Homo sapiens: one gene and its partner. The gene in region 1 interacts genetically with each later gene. Each region holds a gene or a part of one and is shown on either strand. Other genes may lie near its edges.

What was found. A genetic interaction does not mean that the proteins touch.
Region 2: changes in GOLT1B (region 1) and FIP1L1 together harm fitness more than expected from each alone (negative genetic interaction), as found in Homo sapiens cells (one large-scale study listed by BioGRID).

What each region holds. Positions count from the first base shown.
Region 1 is NC_000012.12:21,511,342-21,515,288, reverse strand, and holds part of GOLT1B (vesicle transport protein GOT1B), read right to left. Parts: intron 2,995-3,947; coding exon 2,913-2,994; intron 1-2,912. UniProt on the Homo sapiens protein: May be involved in fusion of ER-derived transport vesicles with the Golgi complex.
Region 2 is NC_000004.12:53,391,141-53,394,640, reverse strand, and holds part of FIP1L1 (pre-mRNA 3'-end-processing factor FIP1), read right to left. Parts: intron 3,212-3,500; coding exon 3,143-3,211; intron 1-3,142.

The sequences.
Region 1 (3,947 bases):
TAAGATATTTCAACTGACCATTACTGTGGATCTCTTCTGGGCCTATGTAGTCTTTGGACAAACAGATTTAACTCCATTAAGTTCAATAGTTAACAACAGTTATTGACTAAAAATACTTTAAATGTGTATTCTGGACTTTGGATTGAAAGTGGTAATGACATTAAAGATAGATTTAATGATGTAAGCATAAATTTATAATTATTGAATATAAATTTTAACACACATTACTGTAAGTGGTTATTTACTTTGGTTACTCCACCCCAAACATAAAGCAGTTGGGCTTTTTTTTTTTTTTTAACATTCCAGATGGTGATGTAAAGACTGATATTGTATATAATTGGTAGAGACATTAAAAGTTATATAACCCAGGTGGTTATACTATCAAATTCTAGTAATCATCTGATCATTTATTTTGTTTCACGATTCACATGTTTACATAAGCACTTATCATGATGAATAACGATAAGAAACATATTCTATTGTATTGGGTGTCCATTTATGCAAATTCTTGAGAATCCTTAAATTAAGGGCACAAATAATGATTACAACTCTGTAACTAGAAGTTTCAGTACATTCAAAAGCCATTCTAGGTATAAATAACACTGACCACTGTATGAATTTGCAGATTAATGCAAATGAAATCAGAGTATACCCCTATAAGCCTACATTCCAACATTTTGTTATATTATCACAAACAGGTGGCTGGCCACTGAAACTAAAAGTTGCTCTCAAAGAATTCATGGATTTATTAGAATTTTAAGGTAAATTTAAGTGGAGAGAAAGCACAATATTCTCTCTCCAAAGGTAACTTGAAATATTTAGATTGTCTTGGCTGTAAGGTTCTGACCCTAAAATTACCCTGGGGATGGAAATGGGATTAGGCTTATAGTGGTACTTATTCTTCCATAGGTAAGCCATTCTTTAGCTCTTTGAGCATTCAATAAAATGCTATGAACTTTCTCTCTAGAAACATCTATAAAAATCTGTGAACAACTTTAGAAAGTTGATTAACTTCCCTGAACCTAACTGGAACTTGTAGTCTTTTAAGTTTTCCTATAAAGCTAGTTTATCCTAGTTATTTAGGACAGAGTTGGATCTATGAAACCAATCCAAAGAAGGATATGAATACTTCTGATATGGGTCTGACCTAGAGCCAAAAGGATTGTAGCCAACTCAGCTGAATTCTAGATCACCTAGATTCTTTTAGAAATTAAGGATTTTGTTTAGTTTTGAAACTGAGGAGGTAGGCTAAGAGACAGTCATCTGGTCTTGTCTTGAAATTGAGCAAGTTCCCTGAGGTCAACAAAATGCCATCCTTCACTCACTTGCTTAGCAGAAAATATTTTGAGTTTCCATTATACGGCAGATATTATGCTGGGTCACTGGGGATAGAACAATGACTAAAATACAACCTGTCTCTGCCCTCAAGGACTGTAGTTTTACATGGAAGTGCCTCCCTTTCTCCTTTCCTTTCTCTTTTTTCTTTTTTGTTTGAGACAAGGTTTTGCCCTATTGCCCAGGCTATAGTGTGGCGGTGTGAGCATCGCTTAACACAGCCTTGATCTCCTGGTTCAAGCAATCCTTCCACCTTGGCCTCCCAAAGTGCTGGAATTACAGGAGTGAACCACCATGCATGGCCTGAAGCCTTTTTTTTTTGACAATTAAATGAGAGGTAAGGCTGGGTGTGGTGGCTCACACCTGTAATCCCAGCACTTTGGGAGGCTGAGGTGGGGGCATTGCTTGAGCCCAAGAGTTTGAGACTCTCTCTAAGAAAAAACAAAAACAAAGAAAAAAACAGAGGTAAATGCTATGATAGAGTTGTGCACAGGAATGTTATAGAAGCACACCCCGAGTCAGCCACAGGGAGTCAGGAAAGCTTTTCCCAAGGTGGCAAAAAATAAGCTGAATTCTGAATGGCCTTCTAAGACTCCACCAAAAGATGTTACAACCTTCAAGGTAGCAGTTTAGTACGAAACATTTGTTGAATGAATATTGAATAAAAGGAAGAAACTCTATTTGTTAACTTTGAAAACATTCTCTTTAACTCTTGTCTGATTTGATTCCCTTTATTTTATCAAGGTGGAAACCAAGGCACACACTGGAAAACAAATTTGACAAGCTTGTTCAAACTGTAAACAGAGCTGGGAATAGACTCTTACCATCTGAATCCCAGTATAATAGTGCTTTATTCAACTCTTTTTTTTTTTTTTTTTTTTTTGAGACAGGGTCTTACTGTGTCACCCACCCAGGCTAAAGTGCAGTGGCACAATCATGGCTCACTGCAGCCTTGACCCCCTAGGCCCAAGCCAATCCTCTCACCTCAGTCTCTCGAGTAGCTGGGACTATAGGCATACCATCACACCCAGCTAATTTTTGTATTTGCGGGGGTAGAGATGGGGTTTCACCATGTTGCCCAGGCTGGTCTCGAACTCCTAGGCTCAAGCAATTCACCCACCTCAGCCTCCCAAAGTGCAGGGTGTGAGCCACCACACCCGGCCTTATTTAATTGTCTGAATCTAGTCTATTGGTGATACAGTCTGAGAAACAAAATATTTGTAGGAAATAATGGTTTCCTTTTTACATTATTGCTTCTAAAATTAGAGATTATATAAAAGTTAAATAAAAAATGCCCTGAACTCTCAAAGAGAAAGGTAGCATAGCATATCAAATCTGAGTAACATTAAAAAATAGAGAATATGGATCCAGAAATGGATACGGTAAAACAAAATTTCACATTTTATAGGTTTAGCAATAATTATTTTTTGGTCTTCATGGTACTCATGATCTATGTGAAGTAACTATATCATAATACAAAACTCAGCAATTAACCAAGTATCAATTACTCAAATTTCTAGAAGTAAAAAGCATCAAAATACGTATTTTGTTGGCCTAAAATATACATGATTACTTACTGATCTAATTCCAGGTAAATTTAGGAGGGATCCAAGGACTGGCACTCTTCTAATAAAGCCAACAACGACAGGAAAGAAGCCCCTGGGAGAGGGAAAAAAAAGGTTCTTAATATTTACACATTTTCTATTTTCAAAATAATTGCTAACCAAGGAAAAAGAAAGTATCCTGTTAAAATTCTGAATAATTGAGGGTCTTCAAACTTAGAAATAACTACAAACTTAATTAAAAATTTTGTGATTGTTGGTAAAAATGTGACAAGTACATGAGGCCTAGCTATATATAACTCAGATTATGAGTTAGCTCAACTGCTGAAGATTTCTCCAACTATGAGTTGTGTGGGGTGAAACTGATAAAAAGAAAGGGGCTGTTGAGACCATATGTGTAGAACCATGAAAATAATAATAGCTATCATTTACTAAGTAAGTACTAAGGGTCAAAACATTTAGTTAACACTAAGAGACTACCTGCCAGATACTGATCCTCACAGTATGTCTCATTCTTTCTTGGTAGAAATACAAGTCTACAGAAGTTAAACAGCTTCTAACCAGTTTAAAATTGACAGTAGATCAGTTAAGCTACCTCAGTATAGGAAGAGAATGAAATAGTTTATTTTAAAAATGCAAAGAAACTAAACTTTTCCTGGGTCTTAAAATATGTAGTGATACTGTGAAATATATATTTGGTCTTTGACCTCATTTTCTGGCTTACAACTCCTAAAATACTTAAGAGTCTCTACAAGGTGATGTCTTTTTGTATACTAATGAGTTATCATCAATGGTTGGCAGCCCCTAGGCAGCTTCAGGATGGGGGCTGGTCACCAGAAAGACCAAGGCAAGATTAGAGGGCTGGAAATCTGAGCCCTACCTCCTAACCTCCACGAAGGGGAGGGGGGCTGTGAAGCTGGTCACTCATGGCCAATAATTTAATCAATCATGCCTAGTAATGAAGCCTCCATAAAAACCCAAAAGGACAGTGTTCAGGGAGCTTCCGGATAGCTGAACACAAGGATGTTCTTGGAGGATGGTGGGTTGGGG
Region 2 (3,500 bases), on another chromosome or scaffold:
ACTGAGCAGACCAAAGAAAACTGAATCCTAAGTCAGCGATGAGAAAGCAAAGACAATGATTATCATGTCAGGACCCTCAAAAATTCAGAAATTAAAAGCTCCAGCTACCAGAACATTTGCATCAGCCAAGTATATACCCTCTAGATAGAATACTGGAATACCTTATCTGAAAAAATCTGATTACCACAAAAAGAAAAACACCTAAAAATACTGACATCAGGGAATGTGAAAAAACAGCCCTCCAGTGAAGCCTGCAGTCAAGCAAGTTCTATTCAGATGTACAGAGCTTCCAATCAATTTTAGCAGCCCACCGTTACATGAGTGAATGGCCAACAATCAACAAACATTTCAGAAAAGTCTAAGTCAGAAGATAAAAATAACTAACTTAAATAATCAAGTTGAAAACAGACTATGCAGGAAAAGAAAAATCTAACAGAAACAAAACAGCCTATCATTAATATCCTTTGAGAGAGGAGGGAAAAAGATATTGCATTACTGTAGGCATGAATAATAAGATGCTACAACTAAATAATAAAGAAAAATTTTCTTGGAAATTAACAACAGAAATGAAAACTAAGTACAATAACATTATAAGAATAAAAAATTCTCCCAGATAATGGAAAAGATGAAAAAGAGAAAAACAATAAAAAAAATTAGAAGACCATTCGAAGATATCCAATATTATCTAGAATAGAAAAGAAAGCAGAGAAAAAAGTAAAAGAAGAAAGTGTTCCATAAGTGAAGGATATGTGCTTCCAAATCGAGAATGCTTGGTACAATGGATGAAAACAGACCAAGACACATAACTGTAAAATTTCAGAAAACTGGTGACAAAGCTCATACATTCACAGCCGGGGGCGGGGGGGGGGGGGGGGGCCGGGGGGAAAATCTATGCATATGTGCACAAATGAATAAAAAATATTTTAAGAAAACGTTGTAGTCAACGTTTTCTCATACATACATGTTATCTATTCCCACTAGTCACTTCTCTCTTGCCATTCACTCTAATTAAATAATTACACAATTGTTTTTGTACCCAATTGAGTGGCTTTATTTTTATACCTATTAAATTTCTTTTATTTTGCTTTTTAAAAAAACTTTATTCATATTGAAGTACATAAAAGGCTGTTACCTCAAGAATGTCAAAACACTGTTAAGTGTTGAAGCTGTATGATAAGCACCTAAGGGTTCATGTGTACTATTCTACTTGTTACTGGGTTTGCAAATTGTTTAATGAAAAGTAAATAAAGTTATCTTAAAGAGGCTGATGGGCTGTCTCACACTTAAGGATGAAAAAATTCTATTTGCAGCAGATATGAAAATAAATTTTAATTCTTAAATCCACTCCTTTGCCCATTCATCCTCATAAGTGAGTTCAGGCCCTAGTTCATTTTAGTCCCATAGTATGGCAACAGCTCCCTATCTGTTTCACACCCCTTTCATTCTACAGCCCATCCTGCTGCCAGTTCCTTTTCTAAATACCAGATCTGCCACTTCATTCTACTGCTCAGGAACTTTCAAACAGCTTCCTATTGGCTACACAAATGTTTGCAGGTTAGTTTAAAATCAATGTCCTGCTCATCATGGCCCTATTTCCACCATTTCCTACGGACCACAATATACATAAAGAAAAAATGTTTGCCACACATATTCTTAATACACACCCTATTCCCAAATCAGTATTTCTACCAAACATATTAGTATTTAAACACACTATCAAGGCAAGAAAACCATGAAGACTGTACCCATCGAATTAAAATCTTTCATTCAGAATCCAATCAGAATGGAATACTCTATGACCTCCTCTCACATAGCCAAAAGAAACTTCAAAATAAATTTTTCAGTACACAGTATGTATATAAAATACACATTCATAACGGCTACCTTCAATGAGACTGACCCCTAGGAGTTTCTTTTTATTCTCTTTTTAAGTCTACTACAAAAAATGAAGTATACAGAAGCTAACAGTTTATGATGGCAGTTCTCATTTCTATTAAAAGAAAATAAAATGCACTGCTGCTAATGAACTAGTTCATTAAGACAACTTTTCTACCCATTGCAGTCAAGTTTAATATATTCAATGCCTATATAGACAATATAACCCAGAAAAAACTGATGACCCTTTAAAACACAACAGACATCATCACATACTTTCAAAATATTTGCAAAAGAAGAACCAAATACTTACGCAAAGTAGGATGTAAATTAAAATAAAATTATCTATATAGAACTGTGTACAGTAGAGTGGTTGTATCTGCAGACATAGCACACACACTGCATAAGGCAGTATTCTGGTGGACAGGGCTGCAAACCCAAAAGGGGAGCAGTGGTCTCTTTCCAGTCCACTAAAGTTCCCTGAGTATACAACCCAATCTAAAAGCCACTCCCAATCTTCATCCCAGTGTCATTCAATATAAGAGTCAACTATTAAGGTAAAGAAAAAAGAGTACACAATCAGTTTTCCATAAAAGAACTATGACAATATAGTATTATTCTTTGGACTGGGTCTGTGATCATACCATGGAATGGAGAAGCCAGAAATCAGACTTGTTATACAAGTTGTAGTATCAACCTCAAAGTCTCTCACATAAACCTACTCCTTTTAAGAACAAATTTTTAAAATCAATGGCAGTATCTCATTATGTTGAGTTCTTAAAGCCTCTCAGAGAATGCCTAAGATTTTTGAAGATATCTTGAGCTATCAGGGCATTACACCAATGATATCAGTGTTATAAGTGTCATAGAGATAAACAGTATGCCACCTTCCTTACCATTTTTTTAAAGAGAACAAAAAAGTTTCCAATTCTGTTGATAAAGATTAGAGTATTATCTACAATGAGAGCATAATCTGTTGCCACTAACTTTTCTATCCTACAAACATGTATTACGACTCAAAATGAAATCACAACATATAGCAAACAATAGTTTTACTCGGCATTTGTTAGTATAATAGGCTATAAATTCACATGCTTGCAAAAGTGGAGATAAAACAACAATCAGCAAATTTGTAAGTCACCAGGAAGCTGAAGGTTTGGAAAAAAGGTAGCTATTTCCACTTTAATCTTGTCCCTTGAGTAGTGGCATGGGAGCAGACTCAAGAACAAAAAATGAGAGCAACCAAGGATAATTTACTAAAATTCACCTTAAAAAGATTGAATCTGCCATCTTGGATCTCTGCACCTGGTGTAACTTCCATAGTACAGTCTTCGGCCTAAGTTAAATAACATATTCCCCATTAAGATACCACATAATATTTAATTAATAGGCCATATAAAGACAAACTAGCTGTGGCTAGTCTGTGATTTGAAAGTAAGAACATCAGATAATCATTAAATACGAAACTCTAAAAGGGAGGGAAGGGAAAAACAAACATGGTAAACAAAATGGAATTTTTAAACTATCATATAGCATTTAACCACTTTTATAGGGAAGCGATTTATTTGGGGAGTAAAAGTGGGACGGTAGACAAGCCAAGGGTATTCCGGAGTATTTATTAATTA